2 separate regions of the Homo sapiens genome follow, and region 2 is linked to region 1. The links come from fine-mapping of genetic effects on gene expression. A gene starts in region 1. The other region holds a variant in brackets. All regions are shown on one strand. Distances are between the middles of the regions. Region 1 holds the start of AANAT (aralkylamine N-acetyltransferase). Region 2 has its middle 58 kb from the start of SNHG20.

Evidence for each region. PIP is the estimated chance that this variant, and not a neighbour inherited with it, causes the effect.
Region 2: its variant is fine-mapped to the expression of AANAT in spinal cord (GTEx, PIP 0.95).

Annotation. Positions count from the first base shown.
Region 1 is chr17:76,462,681-76,470,937 of GRCh38, forward strand. AANAT (aralkylamine N-acetyltransferase) reads left to right here and starts at 4,923. Exons shown (of 4, transcript NM_001088.3): 1 at 4,923-5,047; 2 at 5,992-6,229; 3 at 6,493-6,647; 4 at 6,985-7,437. The coding sequence starts at 6,067. The coding sequence ends at 7,290. RHBDF2 (rhomboid 5 homolog 2) reads right to left here. Exons shown (of 19, transcript NM_001005498.4): 19 at 8,216-8,257.
Region 2 is chr17:77,025,962-77,034,356 of GRCh38, forward strand. No RefSeq gene overlaps it. Among named protein-coding and RNA genes, the nearest start is that of SNHG20, 58 kb to the right of the region's middle. The variant C/G (reference allele first, on the strand shown) is at 4,425.

The sequences.
Region 1 (8,257 bases):
TGGTAGTACTCAGGCTGGAAAGGTAAAGACGATAACGCGAGATGTGCTCAGTGCCAGGTCTGTGGGGCAGACCTTTAGTGCAGGGGAGGAGTTGAGAGAGAAAGTGACCATCGAAACCACCAAAAAAATGCAGCCATTGCACAAGAGCCTGAAGAGAGGGCTATGCTTCCTGCACGCCGGGCCTCTCAACTGCTCTGCATGGAAAACCGGTATCTCAGAGGCATCGTCAAGGTGTCCCTGGGACATGGCCATGGGGCCCACTCCTTGGTCTGCCCCAAATGGGCTCCCTTCAGTCTGGGTGTGAAACTGGGCAGCTGACACACGGAGGGGAGGGGGTGTGTCTCCATGCGGGAAGCTCCCAGATTCCAGGTCCAGGGCTTCTGCACTGGGCCCGGTGGGGATGCTCACTGCCCCTGCACCAGGCTCTCCGGGGGTATCAGCAGCTGCAGCAGGCTCGGTGCCCGGGATGGGGTGGGGGCCGTGGGGAGGTTTTCTCCAACCCCCGGCCGTGGCAGCGAGTCAGTGTGCCTTTAATCAACGGCCTCTGCACTCCACCTCTCACTGTCACCATTAAGGCCATTCCTCTGCATCTGGCCTCTCCACCCATTTCTCCCTTCTGGAAGGATTCCTTTTTTTTTTTTTTTTGAGATACAGTCTTGCTCTGTGGCCCAAGTTGGAGTGCAGTGGTGCAATCTTGGCTCACTGCAACCTCTGCCTCCTGGGTTCCAGCAATTCTCCTGCCTCAGCCTCCCGAGTAGCTGGGATTACAGGCACCCACCACCACGCCCAGATCATTTTTGTATTTTTAGTAGAGACGGGGTTTCACCATGTTAGCCAGACTGCTATTGAACTCCTGACCTCGAGCTATCCACCCACCTCAGCCTCCTAAAGTGCTGGGATTACAGGTGTGAGCCACCGTGCCCGGCCTTTTCTGGAAGGATTCTTAAAGGTCATCGGAGCCTCCCTGTTGGCAGAATCTGAGATCTGTTCTCCATTCTTTGTGGCATTTCAGGCTCTATCTGCCCCATTTCTTGGACATTCTCCCCTGGGTTCTTCCCTTCTTGTGGCTTCACCTGTGTTCCTGTTAATAACTCCTTTCCCTGCTAACAGTGGACATCCCAAAAGCTTGGTTCTCAGCTTTCGTGTGGTGATACACATCCTCTCAGAACCTTTTTTACTGTCATGATATCAGTTATCCGCTCAATAACTGTCGTCATCATCCTCACCACATCTGATTAGGAGTGGGATGGGGGCTCTGATGGGTCAGAGGTGAGGCTCTACCAGGGCAGGTGGGGAGTTAGGTAGCATGGTCCCTGGCAGTTCTCTGTGTGCCCTGGACAACCCCTCTCCAAACTGCTATAGAATATTCTGGAGTCCTGCCTGGGTGCGGTGGCTCACGCCTGTAATCCCAACACTTTAGGAGGCTGAGGCAGGTGGATCACCTGAGTTCAGGAGTTTGAGACCAGCCTGACCAATATGGCGAAAGCCCATCTCTAGGAAAAATAAAAAAAATTAGCCAGGCATGGTGGTGTGCGCCCGTAATCCCAGCTACTTGGGAGGCTAAGGCAGGAGAATTGCTTGAACCTGGGAGGCGGAGGTTGCAGTGAGCCGAGATTGTGCCATTGCACTCCAGCCTGGGCCACAGAGCAAGACTCTGTCTTAAAAAAAAAAAAAAAAAGAATATTCTGGAGTCTTGAAGTGGAAGCCCAGTCACAGACCATGATTTTCATGGGACCGAAGAGCCTTTTGGGAGAAAACTGAACCCCATCTGGCATTTGAAATGTGTAAATCTGTCTGGGAGATCGAAAGAGGCCAGGCTGGGTGGAGAGACAGGGGGACCCCTGAGGGGAGCCATCATGGGTGAGGCAGGGTGGCATGGTACACACTGGGCAGGGAGTCGCGGTGGGTGAGTTGTGGATACAGGACTTTCAAGGGAGCTGCTGCTGGAGGGAGAGGCTGGGAACAAAGAGCCTCGGCCTCCCAAAGTGCTGGGATTACAGGCATGAGCCACGACGTCAAGCCATTTCTGTGGTTTACAGTCATCCAGTTTGTGTATCATCTGTTACAGCACCCCTGGGAAACATACAGATGCCAGCTTCTCCCTGTCTGTATCTATATATTTTTTTTTTTTGAGATAGCAGTTTCACTCTTTTTGCCCAGGCTGGAGTACAATGGCACGATCTTGGCTCACTGCAACCTCTGCTTCCTGGGTTCAAGCAATTCTCCTGCCTCAGCCTCCCAAGTGGCTGGGATTACAAGCGCCCACCACCACACCTGGCTGATTTTTTGTATTTTTAGTAGAGACGGAGTTTCACCATATTGGCCAGGCTGGTCTCGAACTCTTGACCTCAGGTGATCCACCCGCCTCAGCCTCCCAAAGTGCTGGGATTACAGGCATGAGCCACCGTGCCCGGCCTTGCCCATCAGGTTAGGTGTTTATCAGCTGTCTAGAGTGACTGAACAGGTACGACTTGGGGGGCAAAGGACACATTCTCCCCCCCATCCCCAAGATCCACCTGAGAGGCAGTCACCAGAGGCGTTGCCAGCACTCTTAACTGCAATAGCAGGACAAGACTGGGCATCTGATAAACAGTGCAATCGGTGTCCCTGGCGTGAGGATGATCTCGGAGGTGCTTCTTTTTTAGAGCCCACCTGAGGTCAGGATTTTTTTTTTTTTTTTTGAGACAACATCTTGCTCAGTTACCCAGGCTGGAGTGCAGTGGCTCATCACTGCAGCCTGAACCACCTAGGCTCAAGTGATCTTCCCACCTCAGCCTCCCAAGTAGCTGGGGCTACAGGTGTGTGCCACCATGCTTGGCTGATTTTTAAATTTTTTGTAGAGACAGGGGTCTTGCTATGTTGCCCAGGCTGGTCTCAAACTCCTGGGCTCAAGTGATCCTCCTGCCTTGGCCTCCCAAAGTGCTGGGATTACAGGTGTGAGCCACTATGCCCAGCCCCAGGGATCTCCTTCTCTCTGTACCCATCACCCTGTTGGGCCCCTCACCCTCCTTATTTTCCTTCTCATTGGTGGTGGTATGTGGTTTTCTTCCTGTTGACCAGGACAAAGGTCCCAGCGATCACCCTGCCCTCCCCTGTCTCCTCTCCTGTCCCACAAGGGTTTGAACTTCCCAGTTTCACCATGTTTAACATACCGCCTCATCTTTAAAAAAAATTTATTTTTATTTGTATTTTTTTGAGACAGGGTCTCGCTCTGTCGCCCAGGCTGGAGTGCAGTGGCGAGTCACTACAGCCTCGACCTCTCCGGCTCAAGCCATCCTCCCGTCTCTGTCTCCCAAAGTGCTGGGATTACAGCGGTGAGCCACTGTGCCTGGCTTACTGCCTCATCTTGTTCCCTGAGGTTCTAGACCTCTAGGGTGTTGTCCGGAAAGAACAGGGCCATGTGGAAGTCAGCAAAGAGAGAGGCCGATTGAACAGCAGGCTCTTCTCAGGCATCGCCAAGTGACTGATTAGGATTGGCCACCAGGGGGTGCCATGGAGCCACAGTCTATGAAGGGACAGAAGAGGCCTTTTGGGGGACCCTGGAGGTTGAAGGTGGGGATGCCCAGCTGAGGTCTTGGACATGACCACCCCACCAACCAAGCCCAAGGAGGTCTCTGGTCGGTCCTGAGAGGTCTGTTGAGGGTCCCTTCTAGCAGGCAGGTGGGCCTCAGAGTGCAGAGGGGCCCTGGGAGAAGGGGACCCAGAGACAGGAGGAATGCATGTGGTGGGTGGGCGGGGGCATCGGGACGGGGTCACTCCACGGTCAGGGGCTGTGTCCCAAACCGTATGGGTAGGAACAGGAGCTTCCTCTGCGGGGGGGTCGAAAGAGTGCACCTGTGAGGACACTGAAAACCAGCAGGAGAATCATGAAGACAGGAAACAGGAGTCTCATTGTGAGATGAGTGGGTCCCACCAGTGCAGCCGTGGCAGTGCATGTCAGGAGGCTGACCCGGCTTTGCCCCTCCCCCTTCACTTGTTGGATGGCTCTGAGCAGGTTACTGAACCTGTCTGTGCCTCGGTTTCCTTCTCTATAACGTGGTTAATACTCATTTGGCCGGGCTTCCGTGTGGATTAAAGGAGACGCGTATCCAGGGCCCGGCACATAGCAAGTGCTGTAAGCAGTGGCACTCACAGGCTGCCAGGACAGGAAGGACCCTCAGAGGTCCGTCCCAAGCTGTGTGGGTAGGAGCAGAAGCTTCCTCTGCAGGGGGTCAAAAGAGTGCACCTGTGAAATCCAACCTCCAGGACCCCCAGGAGCCCGAGATGGACACAGGATCTGCACTGCTGGGTGGGGCGGAGAGGCAGGTGCTGGCGAGAGAAGAGCTAAGGGGTGCAGGATGGGGTGTGAGCTGGAGGGCAGGGGGTAGTCAGAGCCAACAGGGAGAGGGGCCTGCATCCCGAGGGAATGCCAGCACCAAGTGCCAAGGCCTGGGCAGCCCTGGGAATGGGTGGAGCCAAGGTCAATAGCAGAGAGCTTTGTAGTTGAGATGTTTGGTAGGGCAACCTCCTGAATATTTAAATATTTAATTAAATTAAATATTTAAATAAACTTGAAGTAGAACGTACTTAAAGTGCACAAATTGGTAGCTTGAATTCCCACCCCCTCCCCCCACATAAGAGGTGGGCTTGTCCAAGACTCCGAGGGACAGAGGGAGAATCGCTGGTGCCCAGCCAGTCGGTGACAGAGCAGGGATTAGAGATGGACCCCTGAGGCTTAGCCCCACGCTCTCTTCCCCAAACCCTGGGGCCTCAGTCAGCCTCTGGTAATCCCTTCTGTGCCCAGGGCACCAGAGCTGACGTTTCCCTTCAGCAAGGCAGGGGCCGAGGCTGCCAGAGCCCTGCTGGCGTCATCCTGCCTGGGATAGCTCGAGAGGTGGGGTGGGGGGATTACAAACCTCTAACAGCACCACAGGCTGCCCGGGGAACATCTGCTACTACAGCCTTGCAGCCCGGAGTCCCGGATTTTACTGGTTCCCGTGCCTGCGGACAGGCCCCCAGGGCTAGCGGCTTTGTGGAGGGAACACTGGGTATCCTCTCCACAGTCCAGGTAGGTGGGACCCCCACTCCTGGCTCTCAGCCTTTAGGAACAGGAGCTTCTCTACTTGGAGCTTCTAGACATGGAGGGAAACATGGAAGCCATGGAGTTTATTAAGTGTCTTGGAAGGTGGAGGGAGGGATGGCCTCCTCTAAGAACTGCAAATCTGCAGGGTGTCTTGGGAGACAAGAGTGCCCAGAGGGGAATGTCTGATGAGCTGGATGTGTGGGGCAGGGGGTGTCCTATGCACTCTCCTTGCCTGCTCCTCCCCATTCCCCAGGCCCTCTGCAGCCCCCGGCTCCCTCTAACCTCCCCACCCCCCACCACAAATCCTGCATGTGTGTGGCCCAGTCTGAGGCCATCTGGATAGAAGTAGAGGCTCCCTAAGGGCCCACTTTGATTAAGGGGCTCTCTAGGACCAAGGGCTGAGGCTACCTAAAAAGCTCTCTGCCACAGGATCTTGCACCCAAAGGACCAGAAGCCTCCCTCTGGGGAGGTAAGATAAACCACATGAATGGTGGTGTGGGGGAACCGGGCGCCCACCCACTGCACAGTTGCATTAGACGTGGTCAGTGGAGGGTCACGAGTCCTGCCTCCCCTCCCACCGTGGGCAGCAGGGTTGGGGTGCCCCAGGCTCCACTGAGCCCTGCTCATCCCTGCCACCATCTCTGGGGCTCAGAAGCACCCAGACGGCACCCTGAGACCAATGTCTGCAGGTCTGCAAGGTGGCAAACCTCCAGGGATCCTTCTGGCTGAGAGGGAAAGGTGGGGAGACAGTGCCAATGTTTGCAATGCCTGGTAACAGCCTCGGGGACCAGGTACCTGGGGAATGTGCCCATTGATTTAGGGGCTGTCTCCACCCCAGTTCCTGCTACAAAAGAGGCCAGATACATACTCTGGGGCCTGCCTCCCTGGAGATGAGGATGAGACCCCTGTCCCTTGCTGTTCTCCAACAGGTGCTGGGAGGCCCTCCTTGGCTTAGGAGGACACTTCCAAAGCTGGGGCGCCCCAAGGAGGCACCAGTGGCCAGAATGTCCACGCAGAGCACCCACCCCCTGAAACCTGAGGCCCCACGTCTGCCACCTGGGATCCCCGAGTCCCCGAGCTGTCAGCGGCGCCACACACTCCCTGCCAGTGAGTTTCGCTGCCTCACCCCGGAGGACGCTGTCAGCGCCTTTGAGATCGAGCGTGAAGGTGAGTGGCCCCGCACAGGGTCAGAGGGATGCTCCACTCTGGTCCAGTTATCCTGTGGGGAGGAGACCCTTAGTCTCCTGTCCTTGGAGGCTGGGTCCCAGAGTATCAGACCATGTGTGCGCTCAAGAAAGTGGGGGAAACAGCAGCCCTAACCCCCATTTTCCTGTGGGGAACGGGGCATCTGAGTGGACACTCGGGGTGCAGCAGACAGTGGACGCGAGGCACAGCGACTACCAGTCACCCACCTGAGCCTCCTGCCACAGCCTTCATCTCCGTCTTGGGCGTCTGCCCCCTGTACCTGGATGAGATCCGGCACTTCCTGACCCTATGTCCAGAGCTGTCCCTGGGCTGGTTCGAGGAGGGCTGCCTTGTGGCCTTCATCATCGGCTCGCTCTGGGACAAGGAGAGACTCATGCAGGTGAGGACAGGGCTGCGACGCCCAGCTCCAGGGAGGCCTCTGAAGACAGAGGTCAGCCAGATGGCGGGGAGGGGAGCCCAGGGGCTGGGATTTCTTCCTCCAGAACTGGAGAGATGAGTACAGGCCACAGGCCCCTCCCAGAGCAAGACCTTCTGGGTCTTCAAGTTTTCTCCATGGGGTTGGGGGTATGGCTCCCAATTTGGGGCCCTCCTTTGCTGGGGTGGGTGCCCTGACCACAGGCACCCAGGGGACACCTGCTCCCTGCCTGGGTTGGTGGTTGGGGGGGAGCACGTGTCAGCAGAAGTGACCTGGGATCTCATCCCTTGCTCGCTCCCAGGAGTCACTGACGCTGCACAGGTCTGGGGGCCACATAGCCCACCTGCATGTGCTGGCCGTGCACCGCGCCTTCCGGCAGCAGGGCAGGGGCCCCATCCTGCTGTGGCGCTACCTGCACCACCTGGGCAGCCAGCCGGCCGTGCGCCGGGCCGCGCTCATGTGCGAGGACGCGCTGGTACCCTTCTATGAGAGGTTCAGCTTCCACGCCGTGGGCCCCTGCGCCATCACCGTGGGCTCCCTCACCTTCATGGAGCTCCACTGCTCCCTGCGGGGCCACCCCTTCCTGCGCAGGAACAGCGGCTGCTGAACTGGGCTGCCCACCTGGCTGCCAACATGATCCCCGTCTCTGCCCTGGGCTCCTCTTAGCTCAGCTGAGCATGGAGACAGCAGTTTCCAGAGAGTGGAGAGAGCAGGGCTAAATAAAGAGGAGATAAGGTGGCTTCTCACGGCCTGAGCTGGAGTGGTGTGTCTTGTCTGTCCCCACGAGGCCTCTGGACCTCCTGTGTTCTGAACTCTGTACCTGAGACCGGGCTGGGTTGGTAAGCGGGGACAATGGGAGGTGCTGTGGGGTTCCTGGCTCCTTTCCTCCTGGCAGGTGGGCAAAGGCACCAAGGCGGCATCCTCACAGTAGCCCATTGCTCGGTGGGGGGGGGGGGTGTCCTTATTCTCCCCAGCCTCATGGATGCCGCTTCCCACCCTTAGCCCCTAGGGTGGGGGAGAGTGGGGAGCAGCAGGATGGGGCAGAGGCGGGAGGCCTGTGCTGTAGAGGCAGCTTGGGGCAGGGAAGCTGGTGCAGGGCCCTCTGCCCATGGTAATCAAGTGGTCATACCCGGTGCCTCACTGGCCATCCTCAGTGTGGTGGGTGAGGCACTGGCACAGGGAGTGGACTCGTCCCCGGGTGGGGTGACAGGTCCCCTCAGTGCCATCCCCATCAGGGCAGGCCACCCTGGGCCCAGGCAGCCCCTTCCCTGCTCTGGAGCCAAGGCAGAACAGGTAGGGGTGGGAACCCCAGGGCCCTAAGGATTCAACCCAGCCCTCCCAAGTGGACCCCTGGGGTCTCCCACGTGACCCCAATCTGCTTTCTGGCCCAACTAATTCCCCAAGATGCTCCACAAGTTTTCTGCTGTCCACCGGGCCAAACTGCTGTCTCTGAGCAGCTGATGGCTGACCCCTCACCTCACCCCCAAATCCCAGTTTCATGCTACCTGAGGTCTCCGTTAAAGACAATGTACTGCCATAAAGAATATTATTTAATCCATGAGACATCGTCCGTA
Region 2 (8,395 bases), 560 kb after region 1:
GCCCATGGAGAAGGCAGTCATGGGAGCGGTGAGTGAGCACAGGGTCATCATCAGCCCTATGAGAGTGATGTTTTAAAGGATGAGTACAAGTCTCCTGGTAGGCAAGGGGAAAAGGTCATTGCTGGGAAAGAAAATGGTGGGCAAATGGGTGTAACAAGTTTGGAGAATGGAGTGAGGAAATCAAGCAGTGGGGGGTGGAAGGTGAGAGGGAGAGGGGGTGGTGGTGGGTGGGTGGACTCCTGGACCCACAATGAGGGATAGCAGGAATGAACCATTTACAACCAGTGACCATGAAGCAGGAAACCTTCCGTGAGTGTGAAGCCTCACCTTCCTTTACTGGGCAGTGGTTTCCTAAATCCATCACTTCATTTCCTCTGTCACCTTTGCCTTGTCAAAGGTCACCAGCAGCTCTTAATGGTCAAATCTCCTGATTTTCATTGGTTTCAGTATCTCCCCAAACTCTTCCTCCACCCAGGAAGTTTTCAATCTTTTCTTACCCCAGACCTCTTTGCAGCCTAGTGACGTCTTTGGTCCCTTCTTAGTTTTTAAATGCATAGAACAAATTCATACAATCACAAGAAAGCCAACCATATGGAAATACAGTTATTAAAATATTTAAAAGCCCAGTTTGTGATGTAGAAAGATGTACTTGTTTACTAAAGCATAAATCGTACAACCCAGTGGATGGCCTTATAACCACAGTCATTTTGTAATAGTGATCAGCGTAAATGATATTGCAAGATTTCTGCAACAGCTGTGATGGAATGAAAAAATCTGTAATTGTTTTTTGGTGAGAAAGTCAAGAGTGTGTCTAATACTATTGTGTTTTGTCAACTGCATTTATAATTAGAGGAAATGGTAAATATGAGACAGAGGTTTGTGAAAACAGAGAATTATTTTTTTCTTCTATCCAAATGCATGCCCTCCCTAAATTCTATCCAAAAATCCCTTGGGGATCTTGCATGCCAGGTTCAAAACCCCAGGTTTACACTATTAATTCTCCCCCACCCTTTCCTGTGACTCTGTCCCAGCCATCTTCAGAGGAGGGGGTTGGGAGAGGGAGTGGCCTCCATCTGTCTGTCAAGGACTTCTGCTTCCTTTAATAGAAAACAAAATAAGAGGATGTGTTGAGATGAACAAAGATGTGCCAACCACTCCCAATTCCAGATAAGTGAGGCAATGCTCACCTGTCTTACCCCATCACAGGGCCTGATACCCCAACCCACCGCCCCCAAGCCATGGTCATCACCTCTGCACATAACCAAACCCCAGACACTTGGCCAAAGAGATCCAGGACCCAGAACAAGAAAAAGGAGCAAATGTATGTCCACAAATGCTTCTACACTCCTCACTTCAAGGAAGTTTAATTCCCTCCTTTTGAGAATGGGCTGAACTTAGGAACTTCTAACAAATAGAATATGGCAGAAATTATCATCTGTCACTCCTGAGACTAGGTCATAAAAGGCACTGCAACTTCCTCTTAGATCACTCCCTTTGGGGAAGTCAGCCACCATGTTCTGAGGACACTCAATTAGCCTTTGAGAGAGATCCACATGGCAAGGAACTAAGACCTTCTGCCAGCAGCCAGAGAGGAAATGAGGCCTCCAGTCCACAGCTATGTGAGGGAGCCATCTTGGAAATGGTTTCTCCAGTCCCAGTCAAACCTTCAGATGACTGTAGCCTTGGCTGACAATTTGACTACAGCCTGACAATTTGACTACAGAGAGGGAACTTGAGCCAGAACCTACCCCAGCTGAGCCACTCCCGCATTCCTGACCTTCAGAAACTGAGATAACAAGTGTTGATTGAAGCTATTAAGTTTTCGAGCACTTTGTTAAGCAGCAATAGATTGCCGATACAAGAAGTATGAAGAGGACAAATCCTGTTCCTCTCTAGGGGCCTGGAGGGGAAGGTGCTGAGGAAGAGGAGGGCAGGGTAAGTTGCCAGGGGCAGCCTTTTGAGAGGGAGGCCTCACAGGGTGTGTTGGGCACAACCTTGGCGCCTACATCCAACAGTCCTGCTGATGACTTCTGTACCTGCTGTGCCCCCCCCGTTTAAGAGCACGTTACACAACATCTCGGGTATCAGTTTCCTCAACTGTAAAGGGTGTAATAAATCAGCCTGGAGTTGCTGCAAGGGTTCAAGGAGTTAATAATAATATATGCAGTGCCAACAAGAATGCCAGGCGCACAGGAAATGCTCACTAAGTGGTGACTCTTTGCATTAACTCCAGGGCCCTCCTGGCTCCACCAGGCTCAGGTGCCCAGACTTGGCTGTTCCTGAGGGAGGCCACTCTCCTCTGACACCCAAAGGCCCTGGAACCCGAAGGATGGGGATGAGGCACTTCAGTGCAGCTGCAGTGCATCCCTGAGCTTCATCCTGTCTCCAGCTCATCCTGCCTCTGGTTTGGAAAGGGCCCTAAAGAGCACCTGACACATGAAAAGAAACTCAACCTCCCTCATAATCAGGGAAATGCAAATTGAAACCACACTGAAATGGAAGTGGTCTTAGGGTTTATCAGCAGATGACCAGATAAACACAATGCCGTGTGTCATACAGTGGAATATTACCCAGCCATGAAAGGGAAGGAACACACACCACAAACAGGTGAAGCTCTGAAACATGGTGCTCAGTGAAGGAAGCCATTTACAAAGAGCCGCATATTGCATGATTTCCATGAAATGTCCAGAATAGGCAAGTCCACAGAGACAGAAAGCAGATGGGTGGTTGCCAAGGGCTGGCAGAGGGCGAAATGCAATGATGCTTCACGGGTGTGGACTCTTTTTTGTTTGCTTGTTTTTTTGTTTTTGAGGCAGGATCTCACTCTGTCACCCAGGCTGGAGCGCAGTGGCACAATCATGGCTCACTGAGGCCTCGACCTCCCAGGCTCAAGCAATCGTTCTGCCTCAGCCTTCCAAGTAGCTTGGTCTACAGGTATGCACCACTATGCCTGGCTAATTTTTTTCATTTTTCATAGAGACGGGGTCTCCCTATATTGCCAGGCTGGTCTCAAACTCCTGGGCTCAAGCGATCCTCCTGTCTCTGCCTCCCAAAGTGCTGGGACTACAGGCAGAGTAGGGGACTTTATTTTGGGGTGACGAAAATGTTTTAGAACTAAATAGAGGTGATTGCACAACACTGTGAATGTACTTAATGCCACTGAATTGTTCACCTTAAAGATGGTTAAATTTATGTTATGCAAATTTTACCTCAATAATTTTTTTTAAAGCTACACCGAGATGTTGTTTCTGTTGTTGTTTTAGACAGGAGCTCACCCTGTCACCCAGGCTGGAGTGCAGCGGCGCAATCACGGCTCACTGCAGCCTCTACCTCCCGGGCTCAAACGATCATCCCGCCTCAGCCTCCCGAGTAGCTGGGACTACAGGCTCATGCCACCACACTCAGCTCATTTTTGTATTTTTTGTAGAGACAGGGTTTCACCATGTTGCCCAAGCTGGCCTCGAACTCCTGGGCTCAAGTGATTCTCCTGCCTCAGCCTCCCAAAGTGCTGGGATTACAGGTGTGAGCCACCATGCCCGGCCAAGATACCACTTCAGCAGATCAGCGAGAGTGAAAGGATGACCACATGCTGTCAGTGAGACTGCAGGGACAGGCTGTCTGCACCATGTTCACAAGAGTGTAAACTGGAAAAACCTTCAAGAGACCAACTTCACCATCTGACAGCATCTGTTAAAGACTTACAGCCTTTGACCCAGCAATTTCACAGCAGGTACTTACCCTGCAAATATACTAGCACACACGAGGAATGATACCAGTAGATGAATATTTGTTGCATCATTATGTGCAATGGCAAAATATTGCAAAGAATATAAACTTCGCCATGCGCCATGGCTCAAGCCTGTAATCCCAGCACTTTGGGAGGCAGAGGGCAGGTGGACCACCTGAGGTCAGGAGTTCGAGACCAGCCTGGCCAACATGGTGAAACCTTGTCTCTACTAAAAATACAAAAATTAGCCGGGCGTGGTGGTGAGTGTCTGTAATCCCAGCTACTTGGGAGGCTGAGGCAGGAGAATCACTTGAACCTGGGAGGCAGAGGTTGCGGTGAGCTGATATTGTGCCATTGCACCCCAGCCTGGGCAACAAGAGCAAAACTCCAGCTCGAAAAAAAAAAAACCCATAAATATTCAGGGGATCAGTTAATTAAATGGCAGCAATTCATACAGTGGAATCCAAAAAAGAATGAGGCCGCTCCTTGTGGGCTTACTAAGTGAAGAAAGCAAGGTACAGGGCACCATGTTTATACACCTCACTTGTATACATGTGCACTTCTTGTACATATGTGGCTGAGCATATATACAGTAGCCCTAGAAATATATGCAAGAACTAGTAAGAATTTCTCTTGGCGGGTGTGGTGGCTCACGTCTGTAATCCCAGCACTTTGGGAGGCCGAGGCGGGCAGATCA[C/G]CTGAGGTTAAGAGTTCGAGACCAGCCTGGCCAACATGACGAAACCCCATCTCTACTAAAAATACAAAAATTAGCCAGGCATCATGGCGCATGCCTGTAATCCCAGCTACTCGGGAGGCTGAGACAGGAGAATCGCTTGAACCCAGGAAGCAGAGGTTGTGGTGAGCTGAGGTCACACCACTGCACTCCAGCCTGGGTGACAGAGTGAGACTCCATTTAAAAAAAAAAAATTCTTCTGGGCATAAAGGGAGAGGCCTCCAAGAAGACCCCATTGAGCCCACCTCCTGGCGTCCACATCCTGAAGTAGTCGCTCCGTTATTGTAGTAGGATTGGTCTATCTGACCCAGAGAATATGGCAGAAGTATGTCACTTCTGAGGCTGTTAGGAGCTAAATAATGTCCCCTGACAAATTCATATATTGAAGTCCTAACCCCCAGTACTTCAGAATGTGACTGTATTTGGAGATAAGACCTTTAAAGTGATAATTATGGTAATATAATGTCACATGGGTGGGCCCTAATCCAATCTAACTGATGTCCTCATAAGAAGAGGAAATTAGGACACGAGCATAGACAGAGGGAAGACCACGTGAGGATACAGGGAGAAGACAGCCATCTCTAAGGGAGACTCAGAAAGCCTTCTGAAGCCAGGCATGGTGGCTCACCCCTGTAATCTCAGCACTTTGGGAGGCCAAGGCAGATGGATCACCTGAGGTCAGAAGTTCGAGACCAGCCTGGCCAACATGGTGAAACCCCATCTCTACTAAAATTACAAAACTTAGCCAGGCGTGGTGGCACACACCTGTAGTCCCAGCTTCTCAGGAAGCTGAGGCAGGAGAATTGCTTGAATCCTGGAGGTGGAGGTTTCAGTGAGCTGAGATCATGCCACTGCACTCCAGCCTAAGTGACAGAGTGAGACTTTGCCTCAAAAAAAAAAAAAGAAAAGAAACAAGAAAAAGAAAGAAAGAGAGAAAGAAAGAAAGGAAAGAGAGAAAGAAAGAAAGAAAGAAAGAAAGAAAGAAAGAAAGAAAGAAAGAAAGAAAGCCTTCTGAAAGAGGCCTCAGATGAAACCAATCTTGCTAATACCTTGATTGCAATGTCTCGCCTCCAGGATCGTGAAAAAAGACATTTCTGTTGTGTAAGCCACCCAGCCTGTGGTACTTTGGCAGCCCTAACAAATTAATGCAGGCAAGGTCATAAAAGGTACCGTGGCTTCTTGCCAGCTTTCCTTCTCAGAATTCTCAGTCTGGGGGAAGCCAGCCAGCAGCCATGCTGTGAGGAACCTCAAGTGGCCTCATGGAGAAGCCCACGTGGTGAGGACCTGAAGCCTCCTGCAACAGCTGTGTGAGGAGCCATCTTGGAGTGGATTCTCCAGCCTGGTCAAACCTTCTGGTGATGTCAGCCCTGGCTGACAGCTTGATTGCAACCTCTTGAGATATAACCACACAGCTAAGCTACTCTGAAATAACTGACCCATGAAAACTGCATGAGATTTAAAAAGTTTGTTGTTTTGGGCTGCCACATGTTGGGGTAATTTGTTACACAGCAATAGCTAACTATTACAGGAAGTGTCCACTTTTGTACCCATGAAAGCCTGAATTATGGCCCCCAAAGATATCCAGCTCCTAATCCCTGGAAGCTGTGAATGTAACCTTCTATGGCAAGAGGGCCTGGGCAGAAGTGATTAAGGCTTGAGGTGGAGAGAGGATCCTGGCTTTCCCGGATGGGCCCCAAATGTAATCACAAGTGTCCTTAGGAGAGGGAGTCAGAGGGAGATTTGACTACAAGGGTAAAAGAAGGTGATGTGAGGACTTTGGCAGAAAGATTTGAAGATGCTACACTGCTGGCTTTCAAGATGAAGGAAGAGGCCACAAGCCAAGGACTGCAAGGAACGTAGTAGCTCTAGAAGCTGGAAAAGCAAGGAAACAAGAGCCTCCCCTAGAGCCTCCGCAGAGAGTGCCGCCTACCAGCACCTGGATTCCAGCACCGTGAACGTGGTTTTTTATTTTTATTTGGGGAAAGGGTCTCAAAAATAAAATGTTAGCTCACTGCAGCCTCCACCTCCTGGGCTCAAGTGATCCTCCTGCCTCAGCCTCCTGAGTAGCTGGGACAACAGGCGTACACCACCAAGCCCAGCTATTTTTTTGTGTGTATTATTTGTAGAGATGGGGTTTCGCTATATTGCCTAGGCTGATCTCAAAGTCCTGGGCTCAAGTGACCCTCCCACCTCAGCCTCTCAAGTAGCTGGGACTACAGGTGCACACCACCACACCCAGCTAATTTTTTTTTCAGTAGAGACAAGGTTTCACCGTGTTGCTCAGGCTGATCTTGAACTCCTGGCCTCAAGTGATCCACCCACCTCGGCCTCCTAAAGTGCTGGGATTACAGGCGTGAGCCACTGCACCCAGTCAGTGAAAGTGATTTTGGATTTCTGATCTCCAGAACTGTAAGAGAATAACTGTTGTCTAAGCCACCATGTTTGTGTAAGTAGTGACAGCAGCCGTCGGAAACCATTTCAGCACATTTTGTGTGTTATTCTGAGGATGCAGTGTGTGCATTCGCTGGCTCATGGTGGGCCTGTTTGCCCCGGTCCCTCCTCACCTGCTGCAGCTGTGGTCGGGTCTGACCTCTGCAGGCTATTTCTAGGCCCAGACTGCCTCCAGTCCATGGGAGGCACTGGTGGGAGACTGGAGGGTAGGCATTCTGGGGAGTTCATGCTCTCCCTCTCTGTCTTGGGCTACATCTCTGCATGGCTGTGACCCCACCCATGGCTCTCCACAAGTGACCCCAGTCCTGAGGTCCTGGTAGCTCCACATCTTCCCTTTGTCCCTCCATCCCTCAGCGTGGTAGCAGCTTCCCATCCCTGCCCCCTTATCATCCATGCCATCATTAAGTGTTAAGCAAGTGATACCTGTTACCACCTTCAGTGGAAGAGCCCTATTGAGTGGCGGGTCCTGCCACCAGGAGCAGCAGTCCTGGGACGTCAGCCCCCTGCGTGGCTTGTGGGTGAGGACGGTGCCAAGAAAGACACGACTCACACAGGCACAGGATGGAACCATGCTAGACTCACCTAGACAGCAGGTGGAGCATGATCAGCTGCAATAGTGAGTGTCAGCCCCCGCCGCTCCACGTGGCCTAGCACTCCAGGGAGAGGGTCTGCGTGCACCCCTCTCACCCCAACCCCCCACTGGGAACAGATAGAGCAGTGGGTGGTGGGTGCCACAGGATGCACACACTCAGGCAGAACAGAAGGCCCATCAAGTCAAGCACAGGGAAAGGTATCCCCGAAGACAGATGCCCAGCACGGGCTGGGAGAGCTCTTTCTTTATTTGTAAGGAAGTGATCTGGGCCCACGGCCCATTCTCATGTGACTATTCGGGTTGAGAGACTGCACGCCCAAGGCTGGCTTTCCCAACACTCTCTCCATTAAATTCTCTCTGGGTTCAGTACCTGAAGTGCTTTCTATTTTCCTGCCTGGGCCTTCACGGAGCCTCAAACAATATGATAAACAAGAGAAATCGGTTATAGGAGTTAAAAATTTAAAGGCATGTTTTGTTCAGCACGAGCTCTGTCCTTGAATTGCCTCTACAGCATTCTCAGCCAGGGGTTGTCTTTAGTTTTAATTGGCTTTTTTTTTTAAGAGATGGGGGTTTCGATCTGTCACGCAGGCTGGAGTGCAGTGGTGCAATCATGGCTCACTGCAGCCTCGACTTCCTGGGCTAGAGATCCTCCCACCTTAGCCTCCCGAGGGATGCACCGTCACACCCGGCCCGGGGGTCTTTTTCCACTGTTGCACCTGTGCACGTGGGCTTCTCTCCTCCACTCAGCCACCCACTGCCTCCTCCTCCACCCTCCATTCTCTTTAGTGCCAAGCGGCCTCACTCCTCTCTGGAGCCTGCCCAGCTGTGACCTGGATTTCTCCATCATGAGGACCAGGTGGGCTGGGGGGTGGGGTGCCACTTAGAGATGGCT